Regions from separate parts of the Homo sapiens genome. Here region 1 is linked to region 2. The links come from fine-mapping of genetic effects on plasma protein levels. Region 2 holds a variant in brackets. A gene starts in the other region. All regions are shown on their reverse strands.

Region 1 (5,000 bases), not on the chromosome of region 2:
TGGCATGATCTCGGCTCACTGCAACCTCCAACTCCCAGGTTCAAGCAATTCTCCTGCCTCAGCCTCCCGAGTAGCTGGGATTACAGGTGCCCACCACCATGCCCAACTAATTTTTGTATTTTTAGTAGAGACAGGGTTTCACTATGTTGGCCAGGCTGGTCTCAAACTCCTGACCTAAGGTGATCCACCTACCTCAGCCTCTCAAAGTGCTGGGATTACAAGTGTGAGCCACCGTTCCCGGCCCAATGCCACCTTTTAAGATGGTGGCTAAGGGACTGACAAGATGGACTCAGCTCTGGTCAGAGGCTTTTCCTCAGGACCCTGGAGGAAACTTCTGCCTCCTGTGGGTCCCCAGACCCTGCACTAAGACTGAGCCTTCTGATCCCTGAACGTTCAAATCATGTCCGTGTCTCCCCTCCAGGGCTGTAAGGTCTTTGAAGCTGGTGAACAAGACTTCTAGAATCCACTGCCACAGCTGGTGCTGTGCCTGAACACAGTGGGCATTTGGAAGTCACCTCTGGATGGTCCCAGGTGCATTTCTCCACACCCAGGGTTGTCCCCTCCATGTTGGAGTTGCATCTTCTGCTTAAAGATTCTCAGAGGGTTCAAGGAGGGGGGTAGGAGGGGAACCTCCTTCCGCCCTGAGTCTCCCCCACCCCACAGCTGAAGCCCAGCTCCAGCCTCAGATTATTTTCTGGACAAAAGGGCCTTTTGCTTCACTTCCCTGGAATCAGTTGTACAAATATTTTTAATCGCCTCCGAAATCGGCCTTTCCCCAGGCTCAGCCACCCTGCCCCCAGCTCTCCTGTGAGTCAGTGCAGTCCAGTTGCTGAACCTCCCTCCTCCCTCCTTCTCTCTCCAGGGGGCGCAGAGGCCTGGTGGGCTCAGAGGCTCAGAGGCCCAGAGGCCCAAGCAGCCCTGACTGGTTTCCCCCAGCAACAAGTGGCTTCATCCAGCAACCGGGGAGACAGCCAGGCCTTCTCACTTCTCCAGAGCAAAACTCCCTTCCTCGCTCCAGCATCATCCACACACAAGCCTGAGACCCCCTCCACCCACCAGGGCCAAGGATACCGCACTGGAAAGAGAGCTCCAGCGCGTCACAGGGCCAACCAAACTCAACACTGACCCATGGCCAATGGCTGTCTTCAAGGGTGCTGTGACCAGGGCACTCTTCAGGGAGGTTCCCCCAGGGATACCACAGAGCACTTGCCTTCCTCCCATCCCACACACTCAAGAGCCTATAGGGAAAGACGATGGCCCGACTGACAGCCTTCCTGCCTCCACTCCTATCGGTCTCTCCCAGTCCCTGGTTAGGTCCCACTGTCTCACCCCTCTGTGCAGGGCGCTCAGGCGTTTACCCCATCGATAAGAAGGCGCACAGGAGACGCCTGTGCCTGGAAGGAGCGGCCTCAGTGTGTAGGTTGGTGGGGGGTGGGTTGGGGTTCCTCGAACCTCAGCCTAGACACCCCACCCCTATCCCCCTGCCCCTGCCCCGCACCAAGACCAGGCATTTGGGCCAAAATGCCCTGAGCTCTCTGAGACTTGGAAATCTTCAAGGGTCTGCTCTGGAATGTCACTCTGGAATGCGCCCCACCCCCCAATGCACTCCCTCCCCCAGTCCAGTTGAAGGCACAGGGGTGGGGGGCCGGCGGGGAGAGGAAGCTCCAGGAGCACAAAACCCTACTTCCAACAGTCTCCTCTCCCGGGCTTTAGGATCTTGATCGTGGAGTTTGTAAGTGATTGGGTCTTCCAGCGTGTAACACTGCGGGCCTGGGGATGGAGGTGCAAAGGACGCTGGAAAAGCCAGCCGGGAGTGGGGGTTCGGGATCTAGGGGCCAGGCTACCAGAAGGGGAGGCGCTTTGATAGTCTGAATTTCCAAACTTCCCTCAGGGGGATTCTGAACCCTCTCGTCCCTACTTGGGTCGACGGTACTGGGGTCTACACCTGCGCTCCCTGGGTGGCTGGAATGGGGAGCAAGGGAACCAGTCACTCTCTCCCATTTTTAGGGCCACAGAAACCTGCCCTCCACATCCACAGTAGCAGGCGGCAGAGAGGACGCCACCCACGAGAGAGAGTGACCGCGGACTCCCACCGAGAGGCAGGCGGTGGAGGGGCTCCTCTTGGAGACCCCGATTATGGAGTGGTTTCCCCTCCCTCCAGCCCGAGCCGCAGCGCCGGGCTCCCCCACCCCCCCAGTCCCCAGCCGGCTCGGGTTTGAAAACTTTCAGCGACCGAGCGGAGTTGGCGCGGCGTCCCCAGCCCGCAGGATGTCCAGTCCCCCCGCCTCTGCCCTCGCCCACTCCCCGCCGTCCCGACCCGACTCTTCCGGGCGGCGGAGCGGGAAGGCAGCAGCCCTTACCTGGGACTCGCCGCCGGCCCCGCTCCAGCGCAGCGTTTGGGGCCAACTCCAGCCCCAGGCGGGGGGCGGGCGGGGGTGGGAGGGACGCGGCGCGGGGCGCTGGGCCAGGCCCGGTCCTGGCTGGGATGGCGGGGCCCGGGCCGGGACGCAGGGCCTGCCTCTCCCTGGGACCGAGGCTGAGCCAGGCGCGCTGGGTTGCTCGCTCTCGCGCGGGCCTGTCCCCAGGCAGGGCTCCTTGCTTTCGGCGAGGGTGGGCTGGAGCCTGCATCACCGTTACATCACCTCCATTCAGGGCGCTAATCGGGCGCCCGCCGCGCTCCAGGTACGTGCGCTCCGTTTACACAGGAACAAAGCCTGCCCGGCCCTCCCCGCCCCGACTCACCTCCAGGCTGAGCCGACTCGTACTTTCCGGCTGGTGAGGGAGATGGGAGTTTCTGGCCCTGCCGGCGTGTGGGTTGTTGCTGTTGACTGCCACGCCCCCGCATGCGGGCGCGCGCACACTCACGCGCACTCACTTTCTGGGCTCGGCCTTCGCCGGGGCAATTGGTGTGAGGGTGCAGCCCTGCGCACCCCCCACCGCGTCTTCCAGAGAGCGCGCCTACGGACACGCGCGGGGCTACCTTGGCGCGTCTCCGTGGGGGACACCTAGCCTTTGTCACCTTCGTCCTGGCCCTCCCGTGAGACACACTTCAGGCACAGTTCGCTGGGAGCGGGCCGGAGCGAGGCGCACACTCAAGACAGAGTCCGTCTTTGTCACGCCTTCTGCGCCCCCTCCCCTCCCCAGCTTGCACACGTGGACACACCGCACACCGAGGTTCGCCTTTTGCACGCACGGTCCTTCTCTGGGACCTCCACCAGTCACCAAGCGTACGTGGGATCGTCACCAAGCGCTCCTCTCACGCGTGGGCCGAGTCCAGACCACTCTGGACCGTGGGCAAAGGTCCCCCTCGGCCCGACTACCCCGCGCCCGGGTTTCCTGTGACCGTTCCAGGTTCTGCCCAACTCGGAGCGCGCTCTCCCCTCCCGGCGTCCCCGTTCCCTGCTCCGACTTGTCCTAATTAGCCTTCACGGTTTTGTTCCCCGAGGTACAGTGTTTAGCGCGACCCCCTGGGCCTCTGCGCTCCGGGACACGTTGGCTCTGACTCCGAGTCCGTCCTTTCCAGGAGGTCAGGTTCCCACCAGCCCCACCCCCCACTCCCTGTTCCGGGGTGGATCTGTGGGTTGCCACCCTTTCCCCTCCGGCCCCAGGAATCTGCTGAAGCTGGACCGCAGAAATTGGGAAGCGAATCCAGGCTGGTACTTATCCAGCCCGATAAACAAGAGATTTTCCGGCCGCCTTCCCCCGGGGCTGCTGGCCTCGCGGGGGGTGGGGTGCGCAGTCCTGGGGGCCCGCAGCGAGGCCTAGTTAGCCCGCGCCAGAGGCCCGTAGGGGCTGAGGCGCACAGAGGAGGGAGAGGTTGTTGGGCCTGGCCAGGGCCCTGGAGACGCGGAGGGAGGGCAGGGCGCCGAGTCTCGGGGTGCCGGTTCTCATGACGCCGAATTGCCTGGGGGATCGCCAGCGGTGCGCCGGTCGGAGCCAGCTGGTGGCGGGGCGGGCGGCCCGGAGTGTTTGCTCAACCCTGAGCGCCCGCGAGGGGGAGGGGAGGCAGCTGGTCACGGGCTAGGGGGTAGCAAGGTGGAGGAGCGGGGGCTGGGAAAGGGGAGGGTATCTCCCGGGCTGCTTGTTTGCGTGCCTGCCGCGGTCTACGACAACCGGGAGTCTAAACTCTATGAATCACCCGGAGTTGCTGGAGCGATAAACCTCAGGCTGGTTCCTCCCCTCGCACACCGGCTTCTCGGACTCCTGGAGGGAATGTTTGCTTAGCGGCCGGAGCTGGCGGTGAGGCCCTGGTTCTCTAGAACCCTGTATCCCTTCCTGGCCTTGCCCTCACGGGCTGGTCTGGGGTGGCGAAGACTGAATTGTTTCAAGTCTCTTCAATATTAAGAAGAGGGGCGCAGTGCTGCTGCTGATCTGTTGCTCACTCCTGGGCTCCCTTCCGTAGCTCCACCTCCCACCCTAAGATTCAGAGGCCCCCATGCCAGGGAGGCAAACGCTTGTAGGGTCCAAGCAGTTGAGTGCCAACGCTAGAAAGGCAAACGGCGGGTCAGACCTAGGCGAGGGGCATCCGTGACTGTGGGCTGGGACTAGTTCTCGTGAAGCAGGCAACTGGTGCTGAACACAGTGTGCTGGGAGGGGCCGCTCATTAGCATATGTGAAAAGCCAGCTAAGAGCTAGAGGAAGGTGGAATGGAAATAGTCCCCGAGACTGCTTGTGACCTTAAGAAGCCAAAGATGAATTGTGGATCTGGCAGATCTGTTTCAATTTATTTTCAAGCTTTGGGAATCTCTTTTCCCTACCTAGATTCTCCAAAAAGGCAACTCTTTACCACTCCCTCCCGACCCAGGCGGGGGAAAGGCTGGGGCATCTGAGGCCTGGACGGAGCAGCGGAGCCCTGCCCACTGCCAGCCCTGCATGGTAGATGGCGGCGGATATGTAGGGAGGTTTCCTGAGAGCTGTTTGCTCTTTTTGTGTTCACTCCGTCTCACTTCCTGGGCAGGATTTGCCTTTAAAGGACAAAGCAAGTCCTTTGGGGCCGATGA
Region 2 (5,505 bases):
GCTATGCTGGAGGATGAGGGTGTCTATATCTGTGAGGCCTCCAACACCCTGGGCCAGGCCTCGGCCTCAGCTGACTTCGACGCTCAAGGTCAGTGTGTGTGTGTGTGTGTGTGTGTGTGTGTGTGTGTGTGTGTCCTTTAAAAGAGGAGAGGAGGTGGGACAGGGTTCTAGAAGCCTGGGGGCACGGGAATAGTCCCCATTCCCACCCTTCCTAACGATGGTGGACTCCAGACTTGAGTTTCTTAGGAGAACCTTTTATAAACACCAAATTTTACAAGTATGCCCAGTGGATAAAACTAAACAGGGAATTTCAGGAGAAAGTGCAGCAGGGGAGGGGAGGTCTGTGGTCTCCCCATTTGCCCCCAGCCAGGGTCAGGGAGGGGCTCAGGGCTTTCCAGGACTCTGTGGAACTCTACTTGGGACCACTCAGGAGCCAGTGGGCTATTCCCAAGCTTGACTTCTAAGCCACATTTATAGGTGGGCCACCCAAGGCTCCCAAAGGCCAAGGGGCTCCCCAGCAGTAGGAGTAGCTCACCCACATGGAGACAGGTGGCCTGCTGTACACAGCCTCAAGACCCTCACTGGTGTCCTGTGCCCTCCCTCTCCCCAGCTGTGAATGTGCAGGTGTGGCCCGGGGCTACCGTGCGGGAGGGGCAGCTGGTGAACCTGACCTGCCTTGTGTGGACCACTCACCCGGCCCAGCTCACCTACACATGGTACCAGGATGGGCAGCAGCGCCTGGATGCCCACTCCATCCCCCTGCCCAACGTCACAGTCAGGGATGCCACCTCCTACCGCTGCGGTGTGGGCCCCCCTGGTCGGGCACCCCGCCTCTCCAGACCTATCACCTTGGACGTCCTCTGTGAGTCTGGCTGGATGCAGGGTGGGACTCACAGGAATGACAGAAGCCCACAGGGATCACGGCATGGCCGGAACCCGACAGGTGTCCAGTGGGGAACTCGGTACCCAGTAGCTAGTGGAGCACTGGGCAAGGAGCATTAAGAGTAGGGGGCGCTGGGGTGAGTCCTGTCTGGGCAGAGGAGCAGTGCCTCAGACTGGGTGGTTGGGAGCCATAGGGGTGGGGAGCCAGGGCCCTCCTGAGTTTGAATGCCACCTGCAAACTGGCCTCCTGCAGGCTGCTGCCTGTGACTCCGTGTAAGCCTCTCATGCCCTGCAGACGCGCCCCGCAACCTGCGCCTGACCTACCTCCTGGAGAGCCATGGCGGGCAGCTGGCCCTGGTACTGTGCACTGTGGACAGCCGCCCGCCCGCCCAGCTGGCCCTCAGCCACGCCGGTCGCCTCTTGGCCTCCTCGACAGCAGCCTCTGTCCCCAACACCCTGCGCCTGGAGCTGCGAGGGCCACAGCCCAGGGATGAGGGTTTCTACAGCTGCTCTGCCCGCAGCCCTCTGGGCCAGGCCAACACGTCCCTGGAGCTGCGGCTGGAGGGTAAGGCAGGGCCTAGGCCAAGCCCACTGGGATGGAAGCCCACTGTGGTGTCCGGCTGGGCCCGGCTGATCCTGGCCTCCTTGGCACAGGTGTGCGGGTGATCCTGGCTCCGGAGGCTGCCGTGCCTGAAGGTGCCCCCATCACAGTGACCTGTGCGGACCCTGCTGCCCACGCACCCACACTCTATACTTGGTACCACAACGGTCGTTGGCTGCAGGAGGGTCCAGCTGCCTCACTCTCATTCCTGGTGGCCACGCGGGCTCATGCAGGCGCCTACTCTTGCCAGGCCCAGGATGCCCAGGGCACCCGCAGCTCCCGTCCTGCTGCCCTGCAAGTCCTCTGTGAGCAGAGGGTCCTTGGCCAGGGCTGCCCAGGAGGAGGGTGGTGGAGGGTGCTTCTGGGCTCTGGTGGGAGTGGGCAAAGGACTGCAGTGGGCCCAGGAATGGGCAGTTGGGGAAAGAGGACATAGGTGCTAGAGAAAGAGACAGTCCTATAAGCCCTGCCTGGAGCACTCTGCCCACAGGACTCCTGGGAAGGTGTCACTTCTAGGAAGTGGCCATTGGTCCAGAGGCCTCAGCCTGACCAACCCCAGGCAGCTAGGCAATGAGCAGTACAGGGTGCCTAAGCAAGGTCCCCATCTGTGCCCTGCCTGCCCACAGATGCCCCTCAGGACGCTGTCCTGTCCTCCTTCCGGGACTCCAGGGCCAGATCCATGGCTGTGATACAGTGCACTGTGGACAGTGAGCCACCTGCTGAGCTGGCCCTATCTCATGATGGCAAGGTGCTGGCCACGAGCAGCGGGGTCCACAGCTTGGCATCAGGGACAGGCCATGTCCAGGTGGCCCGAAACGCCCTACGGCTGCAGGTGCAAGATGTGCCTGCAGGTGATGACACCTATGTTTGCACAGCCCAAAACTTGCTGGGCTCAATCAGCACCATCGGGCGGTTGCAGGTAGAAGGTGAGTGGAAGAGAGGGGAGGAGGAGGGGCTCTGATGCTCTCAGGTCCAAGTCCACGAGAGGGGCTGGAGCTCCCACTAGAGCGGGCTGTCTGGTCTGAGAAAGCTCTGCCTTGAGAAGCCTAATCTGGTGGAGGGGGCACAGCTCCCACTGGAGGGGGCATGGTTCCACCTTGGAAAGCCCTATACCAAGTCAGACTGAGACCTTCCCACAATGTGCAGAGGCCCCTCAGAGGTCCCACCCAGAGGCTCCAGCCCCCAAGGCCTACAGATCCCCAATCATCTCTCTATCCTCCGCCCGCAGGTGCACGCGTGGTGGCAGAGCCTGGCCTGGACGTGCCTGAGGGCGCTGCCCTGAACCTCAGCTGCCGCCTCCTGGGTGGCCCTGGGCCTGTGGGCAACTCCACCTTTGCATGGTTCTGGAATGACCGGCGGCTGCACGCGGAGCCTGTGCCCACTCTCGCCTTCACCCACGTGGCTCGTGCTCAAGCTGGGATGTACCACT[G/A]CCTGGCTGAGCTCCCCACTGGGGCTGCTGCCTCTGCTCCAGTCATGCTCCGTGTGCTCTGTGAGTGTGAACCCCCTCCTCCGCCTTAGTCTCCCCACATCTCACACGCCCACCTCAGTTCTTCCTCCTCTTCTGTCTGCCAAGAGTGAAGGCTTCACGGATATTGAGTCCTGGGTTGGAATCCTGGCTCTCCCGCTGTCTGGTTGGGTGACCTTGTAAAATGGGGAATACATCATTCGCCTCATCCTGCAAGTTGTATAAGAAATAAATGGCTGGTGCAGGGGCTTATGCCTGTAATCCCAGCACTTTGAGAGGCTGAGGTGGGCGGATCACTTGAGGTCAGGAGTTCAAGACTAGCCTGGTCAATATGGCGAAACTCCGTCTCTACTAAAAATACAAGAATTAGCACGGCATGAAGGCACACACCTGTAATCCCAGCTATTCAGGAGGCTGAGGCAGGAGACTCACTTGAGCCTGGGAGGTGGAGGTTGCAGTGAGCCAAGATCACCACAACGCACTCCAGCCTGGGTGACAGACTGAGACTCTGTCTCAAGAAAAAAAAAAAAAAAAGAAAAGAAAAGAAGAGAAAAAACCAAAAGAAATAAAGCGTGCTGAGTGTGTCTGGCACACGATAAGCCCTCATCAGTCTTGGTCTCCCACTCCAGCCTTCACCAAGGCCTACACTGTATCAGTCAGCTATTGCTATTGACCACAACAAAACTTACTGCTTCAAACAAAAGTCATGTTATCTGCTCAATTCTGTGGGCTGGGCTCAGCTGGGGAGTTCTTCTGTTGTTCACACCTCATGTGGCTGCAGTTGCCCAGTGGTCTCAGATGACTGCACGCTCCTGGCTGCCAGTTGGGCCACATGTGCCCAGCAGGCTGGCCTGGGCTTCCCACATTGTTGTGTTCCAACAAGTAGAGCAGAAGCTACAAGGCCTCTTGAGGTCTGGCTCTGAAGTTGCACAACATCACTTCTTTCTTCAATTGGTCAAACTGAGTCACAGATTCAAGGAGTGAGGAAATAGGTTCTGCCTCTTAATGGGAGGAGCAGCAAAGTCACTGTGCATGGGTACAGGGAGGGAGAAATTTGTGGTCATTGTCTGCAATCACCACACTCCCTTCCTCCCCACAGACCCTCCCAAGACGCCCACCATGATGGTCTTCGTGGAGCCTGAGGGTGGCCTCCGGGGCATCCTGGATTGCCGAGTGGACAGCGAGCCGCTCGCCAGCCTGACTCTCCACCTTGGCAGTCGACTGGTGGCCTCCAGTCAGCCCCAGGGTGCTCCTGCAGAGCCACACATCCATGTCCTGGCTTCCCCCAATGCCCTGAGGGTGGACATCGAGGCGCTGAGGCCCAGCGACCAAGGGGAATACATCTGTTCTGCCTCAAATGTCCTGGGCTCTGCCTCTACCTCCACCTACTTTGGGGTCAGAGGTGAGGGGAGGGGGCTCCATCTCCCAGGCCACTCTGCACAAAAGCCCAGCTCTTAGGCCCAAAGGCTTCCTTCCCTGTATCCCTCCTGCTGCAGCATGATTTGCCTGTCGACTCTAAACTGATTGCTCGGGGCACCCTTGTGTGGAGAGCTTCAGCGATAAAGCAAAAGTTAGAAGGTGTCATCTTGGGTGGGTCCCCTTGGAAGGAAGCACTGGGGGCCTGCAGCTGTGGCTGCTCTGAGTCCCGCTCTGTGTTCCAGCCCTGCACCGCCTGCATCAGTTCCAGCAGCTGCTCTGGGTCCTGGGACTGCTGGTGGGCCTCCTGCTCCTGCTGTTGGGCCTGGGGGCCTGCTACACCTGGAGGTGGGTCTGGAGCTGGGAGTGGGCCAGAAGATTGGGGTAAGGCAGCCCACCTCGTCTTCTCCCCAAATTCCCCCAGGTCCTTTAGGACCTCCTATTAAGTTCACAGGCTGCCTACTTCCCAGACTGCCCCTCCAAATTGGAAATCCCTTCTAGAATTGTCCCTAAATCCTCCTTGCTGTAGTTTCCTTCTTTCCTCCTCTCTGCCCTGGCTGTGCTAAAGCAAGGGCTAGGGAGGAAGACAGAGGAAGCACCCACTCTCCATGAGGTTCCCACGCTCTTGTGGTCTGGAGCCAGCCTGTGGGGAGCGGGAGAGGAATGGGGGCAGGAGGTGGGGAGGGGAGAGGCTCTCTGAGTCCACTCCGGGCCTTGCAGAAGGAGGCGTGTTTGTAAGCAGAGCATGGGCGAGAATTCGGTGGAGATGGCTTTTCAGAAAGAGACCACGCAGGTATCCATTCAACACACACGGGCAGATATAATACCCAGCTAACCCACAGTGCCAACTGGCATCTGGAGACTGCTGTCATTTAGAGGATGGTGCCTGGGACCAAGGGGAGGTTGGGGAGAGTGTGCAGGGAACCAGGAGCCCCTCAGGAGATAGGAGAGCCCTGTTCTGCTCGGGGCAGAGGGAATCCCTGTGTCAGCTGGCGGCTGGCTTAGAGGACTAGGGGAGACTTTCTGGACTTGGCAGCATCCCCTCCATTTCCAAGACACGTATGTTCTGACTCCCCCACCTTTGTTCTGAGGCCTCTTCCCCACTCCCAAGCCTGCCCGTCACCTGGGCAGAAGTGAAAGTCAG

Direction of the effects. Positions count from the first base shown, and alleles are read on the strand shown. Strength reflects both the effect of a copy and how common the allele is.
For the plasma level of the protein whose gene starts at base 2,796 in region 1, allele A in region 2 goes with a higher level than allele G (weak association).

The links. PIP is the chance, under the fine-mapping model, that this variant and not a neighbour inherited with it causes the effect. Protein levels are from antibody-based Olink assays in UK Biobank. Linkage for the fine-mapping came from a reference panel and not from the study's own genotypes, which makes the PIPs less certain.
Region 1: it holds the start of GPRC5C, and the variant in region 2 is fine-mapped to the plasma level of the GPRC5C protein (UK Biobank, PIP above 0.99).

The regions. Positions count from the first base shown.
Region 1 is chr17:74,429,884-74,434,883 of GRCh38, reverse strand. It overlaps GPRC5C (G protein-coupled receptor class C group 5 member C), which reads right to left and starts at 2,796. Exons shown (of 4, transcript NM_022036.4): 1 at 2,743-2,796. RefSeq lists a silencer at 3,784-3,923.
Region 2 is chr20:3,688,804-3,694,308 of GRCh38, reverse strand. SIGLEC1 (sialic acid binding Ig like lectin 1) reads left to right here. Exons shown (of 22, transcript NM_023068.4): 13 at 1-88; 14 at 611-862; 15 at 1,178-1,447; 16 at 1,537-1,788; 17 at 2,107-2,406; 18 at 2,709-2,969; 19 at 4,045-4,347; 20 at 4,607-4,709; 21 at 5,082-5,154. Among named protein-coding and RNA genes, the nearest start is that of ADAM33, 9.5 kb to the right of the region's middle. The variant G/A (reference allele first, on the strand shown) is at 2,910.